2 separate regions of the Homo sapiens genome follow, and region 2 is linked to region 1. The links come from fine-mapping of genetic effects on gene expression. Tissue or cell type: whole blood. Region 1 holds a variant in brackets; the other region holds the start of a gene. All regions are shown on one strand. Distances are from middle to middle.

Region 1 (7,952 bases):
ACCATGTCTACCAGGGTGACCTGGAAGTCCTACGGGGTGTCCCCCTTGGCCCCAGGGCCCTCAGCAGCTGCTCCTACAAGAATGGGCTGGTGCCTGCATCAGCTCCTGGAGCTCCTCCCAAATGGGCAGCAGCAGCAGCTTCTGGAGTGGCTGGGTATCAGCATGGGTCTGGGTGGAGGCTATGCCAGGGCCAGTAGTATGGGAGGCATCACAGCCGCCATGGTGAACCAGAGCCTGCTAAGCCCCTTAAGCTGGAGGTGGACCCCAACATCCAAGCCGTGAGCACCCAGGAGAAGGAGCAGATCAACACCCTCAACAAGTTTGCCTCCTTCATCAACAACGTGGGGGTTCCTGGAGCAACAGAACAAGATGCTGAAGACCAAGTGGAGCCTCCAGCAGCAGGAGAGGAGGCTGGAAGCAACATAGACAGCGTGTTCCATAGCTACATCAACAACCTTGGGTGGCAGCTGGACACTCTGGGCCAGGAAAAGCAGAGGCTGCTGGAGGACTTCAAGAAGAAGTAGGAGGGTGAGACTGATAAGCCAACAGAGATGGAGAATCAATCTGTCCTCATCAAGAAGGACGCGCATGAAGCTTAAGTGAACAAGGTAGAGCTGGAGTCTCGCTTGGGAGAGCTGACTGATGAGATCAGCCTCCTCAGGCAGCTGTATGAAGAGGAGACCTCCAGACTCGGACACATCTGTGGTCCTGTCTATGGCCAAAAGCCGCACACTGGATGTGGGCAGTGACATGGCCAAGTCCCCAAGTGGGAGGAGATAGCCAAAGCAGCTGGGCGAGGCTGAGAGGGCACCAGATCTAAGTGTGAGGGGTTGCAGACACTGGCTGGGAAACACAGGGATGCCCTGTGGTGCACAAAGATGCAGATCTCAGAGATGAACCCGAACATCATCTGGCTCCAGCTGATACTAAGGGCCTCAAAGGCCAGAGGGCTTCCCTGGGGTTCACCATCGGAGAGCCAAGCCGCTGGCTATAAAGGAGCCAACGCCACGCTGGCAGAGCTGGAGGCCACCCTGCAGTGGGACAAGCAGGGCATGACATAGCAGGTACGCGAGTGCCAGGAGCTGATGAACGCCAGGCTCCCCTGGACACTGAGTTCACCACCTACGGGAAGCTGCCGGAGGACAAGGACAGCAGCCTGGAGTCTGGGATGCAGAACATGAGTATCCATACAAAGACCACCAGTGGCTGCTCAGATGGGCTGAGCTCGGCCTACTGGGCCTCACAAGCTCTGGCCTCAATCACAGCCTGGGTTCCAGCTTTGACTCTGGCAAGAGCTCTGACTCCTTCAGCCGTACCAGCGCTTCCAAGGCCACGGTTTTGAAAAAGATCCAAACCAGCAATAACAAGCTGGTGTCCAGCCCTCTGCTGTCCTGCCCCAGTGAACGGCCATGGCAGCCCCTCCCAGCCTCCTGCTCCTGTGGCTGCCCCAGAGCCTGCAGGGGAGGCCGCTGTGTAGGGAAGCAAGGGGAACAAGAGACCCACCTGAGGCTCAGCCCTAGCCTCCCCTGGGGTACCTCCTCTTGCCCATACCCCCAACTAAAAAACAATTCAATTGTTTTTTTTCCAAAATAAAGCAACAGCTAGCTCTGAAAAAAAGAAGAAGAAGAAGAAAGAAGAAAAAGGAAGAAGAAAAAAAAGAGGAGGAGGAGGAAGGGAGGAGGAGGAGGAGAAAAAGAAACAAGGAAAGAGAAAAGAAAATGAGGTCAGGCACAGTGAGTGGCTCACACCTATAACCTCTAATCCCAACACTTCAGTAGGCCAAGGCAGTAGGATTGCTTGTGGCCAACAGTTGGAGGCCAGCCTGAGCAACATAATTTTTCTACAAAAAAAATTTTTAAAAATTAGTCGGGTATGGTGGCACACCCTGCAGTCATAGCTATTCAGAAGGGCAAGCGGGAGGATCGCTTGAGCCCAGCAGTTCAAGGTTGCAGTGAGCTATGATCGTGCCATTGCACTCCAGTCTAGGTGACAGAGCAAGACCCTGTTTCAAAATAAATAAATTATATTATATCATATTTATTTGGGAATAGGCATTGCAATGGGAATACACATGCCATAGTAAACGTGCATATTCAGGGAGGTAAAGGAAGATAAAGATTTTTAAAGGATAAAAGAGGGGGGATTACACAATTGTTTTGAATCAATTATCCTTGGCTACAAGGATCAACAACACTAGTGGCACCAGTCCCAAGTTGGACAGGCAGTGGCTGGCAGATGTCCTCACAAAAGTATTTTTTTGTGTAAGTTTGTGATGGCCTTTTTAAAAGATTGTGGGTTTTGCAGATTCTTTTCTAATAGTTCTCATTATCAGTCATTTGTGCATAAGAACCTTCCCCAGCTCCATTTGTGAGAATTTTTAACACAAGTGATTCAATTTTGATTTTTTTTTTTTTTTTTTTTGAGACAGAGTCTCACTCTGTAACCCAGGCTGGAGCGCAGTGGTGCGATCTCGGCTCACTGCAACCTCTGCCTCCCAGGTTCAAGCAATTCTCCTGCCTCAGCCTCCCGAGTTGCTGGGACTACAGGCAGGCGCCATCACGCCCGGCTAATTTTTTGTATTTTTAGTAGAGACAGGGTTTCACCATGCTAGCCAGGATGGTCTCGATCTCTTGACCTCGTGATCTGCCTGCCTCGGCCTCCCAAAGTGCTGGGATTACAGGTGTGAGCCACCACGCCCCGCCTCAAGTTTGATTCTTATAACTTTTACAATACCTTGAGGGACTAAAGTCCCTCCCCAAGCCCCACTCCCAAGGACTGACAGACCCTATATCTAGTCTCCCACTACCGCCCCTGCTGGCCTGAATCACCTTTGGCCTCCATGGACACCCTCCGTACTGTGCTCACCTGCAGCAATCTCTGCCTTTCCCATTGCAGCCCACCTCCCCTCCCCCGCCCGACTTGCTCCCCTGAAGGTCTGCTTCTAAAACTGGCCCCAGAGTGATGTGGGGCTGTTGGTGTCCTTGAAGGCAGCAATTGCACATAGAAAAAATTATTTGCAAAATTTTGATTTTTAAAATTAATATTTGCCTTATTAAAATTAAATTTCCGAAACCCAGGTTTGGCCGGGAGCAGTGGCTCACACCTGTAATCCCAGCACTCTGGGAGGCCGAGGCGGGTGGATCACGAGGTCAGGAGATCGAGACCATCCTGGCTAACACGCTGAAACCCCATCTCTACTAAAAAAATATAAAAATATACAAAAAATTAGCCGGGTGTGGTGGTGGGCACCTCTAGTCCCAGCTACTCGGGAGGCTGAGGCAGGAGAATGGCGTGAACCCGGGAGGCGGAGCTTGCAGTGAGCCGAGATCACGCCACTGCACTCCAGCCTGGGCGACAGGGTGAGACTCTGTCTCAAAAAACAAAAAAGAAACCCAGGTTTTTCATCTTTTTGTACCTTAAGTATAAATCTTCATATCCTAGTTTTTAATCAAGCAAAACTCAACAATCACTTTTAAAGGTTGCCTTTCATAATAATCAAATGCCCTTAAATATTATAAAACTGACGTTGAAGATTGAGTATACATATTTTTCTGATTAATCACAGCTTTCATTTGGCTCTTGAGTCACTATAATGTCACCATGCCAATTCATCAGATCCTTCACACCTTATAAAATTATGTTGTTAATTTCTGCGCTTGATTGTATGACTTGGGTTGACTGAAATCTCTATTCTTTTCACTTTTTCCTTCCTTGGCAGGCCCATAACTTGCAAGTTTTTGAATAGCCTCCTTTGGATTCCACATAGTTCTTCTGGTTTTGTTTGGCTCCACAAGTACTACCCTCTGTATTAATGACCCTCCATGATATGCTAATAGCACCCCACTTAAATGACTTGTCTTGTCCCCAGTTTCTGGCCCTCCCTTGGCCAGTCCTCACATCCTTACATGGACCAAGTTCCAGGGATGAGGCCCAATCTTTGTGCTGTTGATCTTTTCCCCTTTCCTGAATGCCCTCACCCTCTTCTCTACCCATACTTCAAAACTCATGTCAAATCCCACCTCCCTTGACCACCACAGCCCATGGTAATTTCTCCCTCCTCTACACACGTATCACCCATTTCTGGTACTATTCATTTAATATTACCATGTGCATCATATTATTGCAAGTTATTTTTTCCTATGTTTTTTTCTCTTCCTTCTCACCTAAGATTATAAGCTCTCAGTAGGAAAGAGCTGTGTTTTACTATGTTTAAACTCCTGATTATATCCTAGCATTGTGCCTTTCTCATGGCAACAGCTCAGTAAGACCTAGTTAAGTGATTGAGTGGTTGACATTTATTAGCATGTCATTTCCTAGAGGGTATGTCCACACTCTGCTCCTGCCCAATATGCTATGAGTAGTCAATGAGAATTGAGCAATATTAATCATAACTAACCACTTGAGGTGTATGACACACCTCAGGAGGCAACATGTAACCACTTCTCAGCATGCTTGAGGCAGGTTTACTGACTTCAACCAGCACGAAATTTCAGAGGAGTCATGTAAGGTATAGATCCTCCATCCTGAAATTACGTTGCCTATAGTTGTTCAAACACTTCCTGCTGAAAAGTTTAGGATAATGCTGAATAATATGTTTCAGATGCCTTACTTATGGACAATGAATATGTGCAAAGACACGGGATGGAAGAAAGTCACAAAAATCCTTTCACTAGCTTTAGTTGTGTCAACGCTTCACAGGAAAACAGAACTGATTTTATCAGAACTTAGTTGGAAGTTTTTTATATAAGCGGAAGAGCAAAAGGGAATCTACTGTATCGCTCCCTCTACCCAGAGGAAGGAAATAGAAAATGTCCACACAACAAATGGACCAAGTGTATAACAAAACCCTCAGCCCCAAGGTGTCTCTGATGTACTGCAGGAACCAAGGCAGTCTCCCAATTCAACTATTATTGGCCTGTCCCTTTTAATTGAAAGCAGTTGCCCTTTCCCCACCCATCCCTGAGTATGACTCATTAACTGCCCC[CG/G]GGCCAAGTGTTTTACAAAATACTCTGCATCACCATGGCAACAGCCCAGCATCTGCCCTCACGTAGGGTGTGGCTAGAGTAAGTACTACCGCTTTTTTGTTTGTTTGTTTCTGTTTGTTATAAATTGGAAACTTTAATCACAGGAAGAGGCTGTTTGGCACCCGAGAGCTGTCACATAGCAGTGCAAGAAGTAAAGAGAAAAAGGGGAGAGCCAAAATAACATAATTACTTCTTCACAGCTAGGATATGTCTCTACCAGATTACACTGAACTACCTGAGGATGACTGGAAACAGAGATAGTGGTAATTATTAAGGTCTTACTATGAGGCACTCTTAGTCTTCAATTATCATTATTCCTATTTTAAAGATGAAGAAACTGAGATACCCAGAGCTTAATGTTATGTGTCTGGTGAGTAACAGGGCCAGGATTCAAGCCATGCAGTCTTCTTCCAGGGACCCACACCCTTAACCATTATGTCTGATGACCTCGGGTTATAGGAAAGGAAGAGCCTCACAAGTTATTGATGGATTTTGTTCATTTGTTTGTTTCTGCTGACTATAGTTAAATTATATCAAGGCTTTAAAGACTAAAACAGGATGGATTTCTAATTTGACAGTTAACTGCTAAGGGAGCAAAAACTGAATTGTGTAGTGGAGACCTGGCTACCAAGATGGACATGTTCCAGTCACAGGCATAGAGAAAGTTCTCTGTTTGGTGCCCATCAACTTAAGTCCTTCCTTATACCTGGCAGTGTCACCATCTTTCACAGTCACAGATTCTGCCACTTTGGCCAGGCGTCTCATTAGTCCCACCCCTCATCACAAAAGAGTCTACTGGGGACAGGTCAGCACAAACCCACCAACGTGACCAGAAGCATAACTCACAGAACCTATCCTGCTGGCAGAGGGGAGCAAGGGCACCAAGGACAGCCTCATCCCCTGGAGAAATGTCCTCATTTGCCAGGATGCCTCATTGGCTGCTTGAATTGGTTGGACTCAGGAAGTCTATTAGCTCTGAGTCCAGAGCTGTTGTTTGAGACTCAAGATGAAAAAGGAGGCAATTTCTACATTTATCTAATGCACAGCTAAGAGTGGAGGTTGGGTGAACCTGATTTCAAAAGCAAACTGAGTATTAAATTTCACCACTTTTTAAAGCGCTGACGTGATGTAAGGATGCTGTCATTGTTGGCTAACAATTTTCTTAGGTCTAATTTGGGTCATTAAAGGTGACATGAAGCTCCTCTGGGCTCACAGCATTGTGCTGTAAGCACTGTAGCTATGCTGTGTCACAACGCAAAAGCATCGTGCCACAGTAAGCAAGTGTGATAGGTTTTGTCACCACATTAGGTCTGCCTTGGAGAGGTCAGCAAAACGTGCTTGCCAGAAATTCATCTTATCATCAGAGTACAACCTTCAGGCTGCCTGGATCTATGCCCCACCTCTGCCATTTACTAGCTGTGTGACTGGGCAGTTACTTTCCCTCTCTGTCCTTTGGTTTCCTTACTTGTAACAGGGACAGAAAAATATTTCCTACTTTTAGGGCTGCTGTGAGGATCAAAGAAGTTAATTCATGCCAACTGCTTGTAAGAGTTCCTGGCATGTTTTGCCACACACTTCAATCTTGGATTAAAGAACTTGCCATTCAGTTGAACTTACGGTATTTCTGCCTGAGCGCCCCTCAGCCTGCCCTCTGAAATAGGGTATGTAGGGAATATCAGTTTGCTTACTTACTGGGACACTGCTATATACAAAGCCATGTTTATCTAATTCTTCTCTATTTTGCTCATGTACAGTTTTTCTAAGTATTTACAAGCAAAGGGACCTCACCAGAATTTTGGAGGCTTAACAGGGCTAAGTCAAGCATGATTACTTTTAAAAATAATTCTGGGCCAGGCACAGTGGTTCATGCCTGTAATCTCAGCACTTCGGGAGGCTGAGGTGGGAGGATCACATAAGACCAGGAGTTCAAGACCAGCCTGGCCAACATAGCAAAACCCCACCTCTATAAAAATTTAGAAAATAAAAATAAAAAAGAAATTCTGATCACAGTTCCAACCAAGCACCTGTATCATGTTCAAAACAGGGAGTCAGATGGACTTCAGCAAAACAAACCATAAAGCCACATTATTTGCAATAAATTCACTAGTGCAGGGATGAATGATTCTGTGGAATGAGACCTAATTCCTGTTGATTTAATTCACAACTCCCTTCAGAGAGAGGGGTATAGGCAGCCATCAACCTCCTCATTGTCCCTTGGAAATTTCTAAAAAGGAAGGACGTAGGGTAATAGTCTGGGAAGAGATGTGGCACTTGGGCACTTGTCTTGCCCCTCATTTGCAATGGCAAAAAAACCACTATTTTACTTGGAATGAATATTTATTGGGGAGTGGGGTGTCTTTGTGGGAGTAAGGGGCTGAAGTCCCCCAAATTGCTACTTGGTTCTTGCCACTTTGCTCATTCCCTACTAAATGACAGAGTGTTTAGTTAAATCAAATATTTACCTTAATTATGTTTTAAGATTATTTTGAGAATTTCAAACATTCCTATTCTTCCCTTCCCCAAATAAGATCAACGAGGCATCCTTGGAGTATTTTAAAATTAGACTTTTCTAGATGTATTAGAAAAAGGAAAAGACAAACCATAGAAACGTTGTTTGACCAGAGCCATCTTCCTGATTCAAGGACTTCCTTTTGAGTATGTAACTGAATGCCCTGATATGACAGGCATGAAAACACATTCTTGTTCACTAGCTTGAAACATTTCTGATGAATGGGCCTAAATGTTTCCGGTGAATGGCTAAGATTACTGATGCTCTACTTCAGTTACAGGAGTTCTTAGATGATGTGGTTAGTAATGCTCAGTATTGGGTTCTTGCTTTTCTATCTCCTCCACATGAGAAGGACTTGACCCCTGCTGGCTCTTATCATTGCTATGTGCAGTTATTGGGTAAGATGTTCTGTGTGCCAG
Region 2 (7,952 bases), 90 kb before region 1:
TGTAAATACTGTGCTATCTTGCCTGAGTTCACCTTTTTTCACTACCATGTTCATCCACCTGGTGAATTCTTATTTATATTTCAATACCCACCTCAAGCAGCACTTTTCCAGGATACTTTCCCTCCTCTCCCAGAGTTAACCTCTCATTTCTTTCCTGGCATTTGTCATTGTGTCTTGGTCACACCCCTGTTATTGCATTTGTCACTGTACTGTGTCCATTTCAGAATCAACCCAATGCTACACAGAGATCAGACTGCACATAAGAATTACCTTGAGCCATGGAAGTTCCTACATTTATTTCCTGATAAGCCCTTTTACCCATCTGTATATTATTTTTGTCTCTTGCTGTCAGTTTACCAGCTCTCACTCATCCTCAGCTCCTTGCTGGCTCCAGCCCTTCAGTTTGATTCATTGTTTGCCTGCTTTGACAAATCTACCTTGCCTGCTACCTTTCCTGAACTCTCCCTCCTTTGACTGATAACCTAGAAATGAACCCCTTTCAGCGTGACCCTGGGGAGCAGCTGTCAAGCAGGCAGCCCTAACTGGGTGGGGCTGATCCCCCAACCTGGCTCTGAACAAGTCATACTTATTTGGTTTAGCTTTTTCCTTTGGTTTCATTCAAGCTACTTCATGGGGCTGAAGAGTTATTGAAAGAATAAATGTCATAGAGAAAGTAAGAAAAACTAACAACTAGGTTTAGGAAGAACAAAAACGCTAATGAAGTCAGACTGCAGGCTCTTCACTCCCAGTGGTTCACCATTTTCACAATTCAGCGAACACCCAAGTAGCCTTTTCTTTAATTTACAGTTAGCAATTGGCTTACATTCCCCTCTGTCTATTTCTTCCAAATTTCATAGCTTCCACTTACTCATGATGTCTTCTCCATAAGTTTTATTTGCCATGACTTCATGGTTCTGTCTATGCAAATGTTCAGCTTCAGCTCTTCTAAATGCCTAATTTTCTATGTGCTTCTAATTTCAGTTTCCCAAAAACAAGAAGCTTTTTGGCCCTAGTTCATCTTTCCATGTTATGTCATGAAACATCCACTACCAGCCATCCTATAGATTGGCAGTGCTGGTGTCCAGACTAACTTCAACCCAGTCCACTCTAACAGGGTCACAGTGTGTCAAATCATGCAAAACTTGGCCACCTGGGCTGCCCCTTGAGCACAGGTTCTAAGTGAGGCATTTTCTCTTAAAAAGAACTATAGTGGCCGGGCGCAGTGGCTCTCACCTGTAATCCCAGCACTTTGGGAGGCTGAGGAGGGCAGATCACGAGGTCAGGAGTTCCAGACCAGCATAACCAACATGGTGAAACCCCGTCTCTACTAAAAATACACAAAAAATTAGCAGGGTGTGGTGGCGCACACCTGTAATTCCAGCTACTCAGGAGGCTGAGGCAGGAGAATCGCTTTAACCCGGGAGGCGGAGGTTGCAGTGAGCTGAGATCACCCCGTTGCACTCCAGCCGCCTAGGCAACAAGAGTGAAACAACGTCTCAAAAAAGAAAAAAAAGAAAAGAACTGTGGTGTGTAAGGCCTCATGATTGAGTTATGGAGTAATTTAGACAAATGATTCCTTAATATGTTGGGATCATAAATTTTTCTGAGAATCAGATGAAAGATGTGGACTCTTCGCCAGAAAAATTTCTCTTATGCAAAAAATTTACATGTAACTTTAAGGTATTAAGGAACCCCAGCAGCCGTTCATGTAACACCCCCCACCACCAAAGGTTTGAAGTCTATTACCTGGCACTTGATAAGAACTGTGAGTCAAAAAGGCATTTAGACTCAGTGGCTCCAATGCTTTCAAGCAGGGAAAATGGTAGAGTGATAGTACCCTTAGCAGAGAAGACAGAAACAGGTTTGGGGAAAACTAGTTATTCCTGAATTATTGAGTCTGAAGTGCAGGTGGGACTCTCAAGTGGATTCATAAACAAGTAACTGAAAATGTGGGTCTGGAGTAGCTGAGAACTGAGATGGAGATTTGTCTCACGTGCTCAGGGCACCTGTGAGAGCAGGTGCAGGGAAGCAGTTCACACAATGCCTATAGCCCATTATCTTTCATTTGCGTCTACTCTGCAGTTTTTGGAGACCTTTCTAAGCCCTCACTTTACTTGACAGTCCTAACAATCTTATGAAACAGGAAAGGCCTATCTCAAGACCTATTACAAATAAGGAAGTGGAAGCTCAAAGGAGTGACAAGTCTGGTCAAAAGTATTGCAATGAAGTAACAGACACAAGACTGGAACCCAAGTCTTCTGATTCTTAATACAACTCCTAATTTCATTGCAAACTGCACACAGATAAATGCCTTACTAGCACGGATCAATTTTTAAGTGCAGTAGTTTGGTTTTCGGATTTTGTCTTTGTGGCTGTCCTCAGTTTACAGAAAAGTTTGAGAGAGAGGGGTGGCAATTGTCCCTTGACAATAATCCCCAGTAATCCCGTGGCAATTGATTTGGCAATACTCACCACTGTTTACTGTTAAATATCTTCCCTGTGGAGCAATAGAGAGCCCCAACTCCTAGGAACTTGTCTACAATTCTGACCCGCACTCTGTCCTAACTAACACTCTTGGTTTTGTTTTTTGTTTGTTTGTTTTTGAGATGGAGTCTTGCTCTGTCGCCCAGGCTAGAGTGCAGTGGCGCGATCTCGGCTCACTGCAAGCTCTGCCTCCGGGGTTCACGCCATTCTCCTGCCTCAGCCTCCCGAGTAGCTGGAACTACAGGCGCCCGCCACCACGTCCGGCTAATTTTTTGTATTTTTAGTAGAGACGGGGTTTTGCCGCGTTAGCCAGGATGGTCCCGATCTCCTGACCTCGTGATCCACCCGCCTCGGCCTCCCAAAGTGCTGGGATTACAGGAGTGAGCCGCTGCGCCCGGCCTGTTTTTGTTTGTTTTTTGAGACATTGTTCCGCTCTTGTTGCCCAGGCGGCTGGAGTGCAACGGCGCGATCTCAGCTCGCTGCAAACTCCACCTCCCGGGTTCAATCGATATTTCTGCCTCAGCCTCCCAAGTAGTTGGTATTACAGGCGTGTGCCACCACGCCAGGCTAATTTTGTATTTTTAGTAGAGACAGGGGTTTCACCATGTTAGTCAGGCTGATCTCAAACTCCTGACCTCATGTGATCTACCCGCCTCGGCCTCCCAAAGTGCTGGGATTACAGGCCTGAGCCACCGCGCCCGGCCCACTGCTGTTTCCAAAAGAGACCTTTTTTGCCTATCTAACCTAAATGCCCAGAATGAGCTCATACATGGGAAAGACCCACGGACATGGACAGACTTCCCGAAGACTACTGTGCAAAACTTATAATTCTAAAAAGTCAAAAATCTTCAGGAATCACAGGACGGGGTGGAGGGGGCCGGGGGGAAAGAGGAGGGAAAAGAGGGAAAGGAGGGAGAGTGAGACTGCTTAAATCGCTGGAGAGGACGGTGGGTTTATTTGAGTCTTAAAGCTCAGTTCTGTGGTTAGCGCCGGCCGCGGTCCCAGGCCCAGCCCGGGAGGCGGGGAGGGGCGGGGCAGGCGCGGAAGCTGTCTGAGTAAGGCTTGGGCAAGGCTGGGCCGGGAAGGGCGTGGGTTGAGGAGAGGCTCCAGACCCGCACGCCGCGCGCACAGAGCTCTCAGCGCCGCTCCCAGCCACAGCCTCCCGCGCCTCGCTCAGCTCCAACATGGTAAGCCTCACTTTTCTTCTTCTTCTTCTTACATGAAAAGAAAAAGAAAAGAAAAAAAACCCACATACTTCCCAGCAGACTTTATCTTTGACTTATGTGTGGACGTGGCAGGAAACAGCAGGAAAAATCAGCCTCGTGGGAGGGAACTGGGGAAGAAGGGATGGAAGGATGAAGCCCTAAAATCATCCTTGGGGTGGCCGCCTAGGGTAGCAGCGGAGGTTCTTTAGCCTTCCCAGTCACGACAAGGCCCAGGGCTGGGGAAGAGGAAGTGCTGGCCGCTCACCGCGCGGGGGGGGGACCCGTCGTGGGTCACTGCCTCCAGCCCCTCGCCCGCGGTCTCCCGGGAGCCCAGAGACGCCTAGGAGCAAGTTTAAGGCAGGGGGCTGGAAAGCTGCGAGGGGTCACTAGTTATTTCTGTACACCAGAAAAGGGACATTTTAGAACTTGGTCGTCTAGCCCCAGGGAAAATCAAAGTTTCAGTAAGCACCCGGCAGACGGCCAAGACCCAACGGGACTGAAACTTTAGCCCGTCGCCGCCCGCAGCGCCGCGGCCAAGAATGTGGGAGGAACCCGGTCCCAGCTGAGCCCTCTCCTCCTTCCTCTTCCTTTTACCCCACCATCTATTTAGGCACTCACTCCGTAACTTATTTTTCTCTTCTTATCTCCTTTCATCTCCCAGTTGAACTCATATTTTCCATAATTCCACCTCCAAAATCTCTTTCTTTACCTCTCCTTAGTGGAGAGTCAGCAAACTGGCCCGCGGGCCAAGTCGGGTTTTCTGTTCTGCCCACAAGCTAAGAATAAAGTTTACATTTGTAAATGATTGAAAGAAATCAAAAGAAGAAAAATACTTTCTGACATGTGAAAATTATGTGGAAATCAAACTTCAGCGTCCATAAATGAAGTATTGGAACAGAGCCACGCCCATTCCCTTCCATACTGTCTGGGGTTGCAGTCCTGCTACAGCAGGGACAGAAAGCTCCGGAGGGTGTTGGTTAAGAATGAGAAGACAATAGTTGAGGTTTTTAAAATTGCTACGTCTTTTTCATCGTATTTTTTTCTTTCCTCAAATGTTGAGCGCTTAGCATGCATTTTTAAAAATTATTTCACAGTATCCGTTTATCATAATGTTTGCTCCTTGCTATCGCCATCCCCACCAAGTAAGACTCCAAGAGTGCCATGAGGTGTGGAGAGCGCCGGTTCTCCTCTCCTTCAGCCACTGCGCCACCCTGGGCAGAGCTTTCCGGTTTCTGGGCGTCCTCAGGACCCATCTCCAAAGTGCCCTGGAGCTCTACAAATTATGCCGTTCCATTTTAGTAATTTGATAATTGTGTCTCTTTCTTTCACTTTGGAGAATTACCTCTGGGAGGAAATGCAAAGAGGTTTTAATTTTCTCCTTGTGGCTGATAGCAACAGCAACAGTTTTCAAAAGAAAATAATCTCTAAATTACACCAAGACTGATGTTAAGGAGAGAAAAATGTGAAGCAGAAAGGCACTGTGAAACTGGAAAAGCAAAACTGTCTGCATTCTGGAAGGAAAAGGGGCAGGGGGAGAATCTGTAGTTCCAGAGAAAGGTGACAAAGCCCATGCTCCTCAGCCTGGTGTGGCCTCCCAGCCAGTCTCCTTCCTGTCATCTGATACCTTAGTAAGACAGGGAGATTTTAGGCCTGATATGAAGGGCATGTTGTAACAGAACAAACACATCTGTTTCTAGGCTGTGGTATTTTGTTTCTCCCCTAAAGGCCCCTGAACCTACCAACACTTTTCTTAATGAAAAGTTCAATTTAGAGCAAAACAAAAACAATCATCCTCCAACAATGTGATTCTTGGGAAAAAGTCCACCTCTCTTAGGGTTCAGGGGTTCTAACGCTGTAAGATGCAATGGGAGGCAAGACTCAGCTAGGATCTCTGCAGCATAAAGGCTGTACAGGAAGGAGGAATCAATCTGCAGCTGTGTAGCTAAGGGCTCAGATCAGTTCTTAGCACGTGTTAATTACGGAGTGAGAAAGCCTCTAGCTCTGGCCTCCAGGAAGTCCATCCTAAGAACAAACGAAAGGCTAAATGCTAAGTTGCAAATGTCACCATCCAAACATAAATCATTGTTAACGCTAGTAGGTAAAGTCTCAGAGGAAGGGTGTGGCCAGGCCGGTTTCCCAGAAAGTCTGTAATTGCGGCTTCTACCCACCAGAGGGAGGCCAACAGCTCCTCACTTTTGGGACCCTAAGTCCCCTTGGGGAACCGGATGACTGGGCCCTATAGAATTTCCTTGAAAAATTCTGCTGTGAGGAAAGAGCCCAGTACAGGATTTAAATCTCTTACATTGTAGATGCTGTGTAAGCAGCAACCTGAGAGCTTCCTGGTTTGGAGTGACCTCCAGAGAAGCTCCACCTTCTCTGTCACTATTTCCCACCAGGAAGTGGAAGCCTGCAAGGCTAAGGACTGCAGAAAGGGACTGGGAGGCCCAGATTCCAGGGCTGGCTCTGCCATATCCATTCCCTTCTCCTGTCCGTTTCCTCACATCTAAGATTAATGGTTCCTAACTCTTAAATATGAAAGCCATTTTCAAACATCTAAAAAGTTCTATCTCCCACTGCATACACAATGATAGCTATGCTTTTAGTTTTCTCTAAGGAAATGTGTGAGTCCCAGGAATTCGGTATTGCTTTAAAAAGAACTGACATTTCATTAATCACAAAAGCCTCCATACACTCTTGGAAAATAAGAAATTATTAACCTATAGACAATGTTTGGTGTGCATATGGATTTGTGGATATAGAGTTACACATGTATTTATCCACACATTTTAAAAATATGAGTAAACCTTGTCACCGTCACTCTCATCTAGGCAGTCTACTGCTTTTAAACGTGCCAGCAATGCTCCACATTTACCTTCCATATATTTCACCTGGAATAAACATGTGGCGAGGGGTAGGACGGAAGGTCACAGAGTGTGACTTTTTGTGGTTGTCTTGAACCCCTCAGCCCCTTGAAAAAATGACTCAGTCTTTTAGGAAACTGCTTTGACCTGAAATAAGAGTCCCTGGAGTTTTCTCCAGTATCCAGCCTTGACATCTTCCCTTGTCTGAGCCCTGCAATTTTTTTTCTCCAAAGGCAAAAATCTCCAGCCCTACAGAGACTGAGCGGTGCATCGAGTCCCTGATTGCTGTCTTCCAGAAGTATGCTGGAAAGGATGGTTATAACTACACTCTCTCCAAGACAGAGTTCCTAAGCTTCATGAATACAGAACTAGCTGCCTTCACAAAGGTACTGGTCCCTGTCTCCCCCACTTCCCCAAACTACCCACAACATGAAACAAGACCCTGGCAGAATGGCCAGGAATGAAGGAGCAGCAACTGACACCCCACACTCTTGCTTCATTTTAACTCACTCTAAGCCAGGAGTTTTTCCATTTAGGAAGAGAGATATATGAAATGGTATATGACGTAATGGAATTATTTTCAAATTTCATTATTCTACCCCAGAGGTTCTATGGCAGCCCTGTCCAGTAGAACTTTCTGCAGTGGTGGAAATACATTCTATATCTGCTCTATCCAACATGGTAGCCACCAGCCACATGTGTCTGCTGAGTGCTTGAAATGTGGCTAGTGTGACTAACAGACTGACTTTCTAAATTAGTTAATGTAAATGTAAATGTAAATAGCCATTTGTAACCAGTGGCTCTAAGTCTGTATCTGTGTTGGCAGCTTGGGCAAGTGGAGGATGAGACTGATTAGGCAGGGCCTGTGGCCTTTTTCCACCTGAACCCGCTGTACTTTTATATAGTTTATCTATTGGAGTTGCATGCAACACTTGAAAGAAGTGTTCCACTGGCTTTACAAAACTGAATAGCCCCTAATATCATAGAAAGAGCCCTGGACTAGGAGTGGGAAAACCTTTGGTTCAAGGCCCAGGTCTGCCCCTTAGGCAGGTCACTTCACCTCTTTTAGTCTGTTTCTGCATCTGGCAAATGGGAATATTAATAATCCCTATCCTGTACCTTATACTCCTGTGAGAATAAAATGTGGCAGCATATTTGAAAGCACATTAGAAGATGCGATATAAAGGTGTAATTATTATTTTCTCTGCAGAACCAGAAGGACCCTGGTGTCCTTGACCGCATGATGAAGAAACTGGACACCAACAGTGATGGTCAGCTAGATTTCTCAGAATTTCTTAATCTGATTGGTGGCCTAGCTATGGCTTGCCATGACTCCTTCCTCAAGGCTGTCCCTTCCCAGAAGCGGACCTGAGGACCCCTTGGCCCTGGCCTTCAAACCCAC

The links. PIP is the estimated chance that this variant, and not a neighbour inherited with it, causes the effect.
Region 2: S100A11 starts here. The variant in region 1 is fine-mapped to the expression of S100A11 in whole blood (TOPMed, PIP 0.94).

The regions. Positions count from the first base shown.
Region 1 is chr1:151,942,965-151,950,916 of GRCh38, reverse strand. The region is part of intron 1 of LOC124904421 (a long non-coding RNA gene); the gene reads left to right. It also overlaps the pseudogene KRT8P28. Among named protein-coding and RNA genes, the nearest start is that of THEM4, 37 kb to the right of the region's middle. RefSeq lists an enhancer at 4,708-5,243. The variant CG/G (reference allele first, on the strand shown) is at 4,985.
Region 2 is chr1:152,032,632-152,040,583 of GRCh38, reverse strand. S100A11 (S100 calcium binding protein A11) reads left to right here and starts at 3,580. Exons shown (of 3, transcript NM_005620.2): 1 at 3,580-3,671; 2 at 6,784-6,936; 3 at 7,761-7,952. The coding sequence starts at 3,669. The coding sequence ends at 7,922. RefSeq lists enhancers at 1,960-2,119, 5,217-5,511 and a silencer at 4,077-4,371.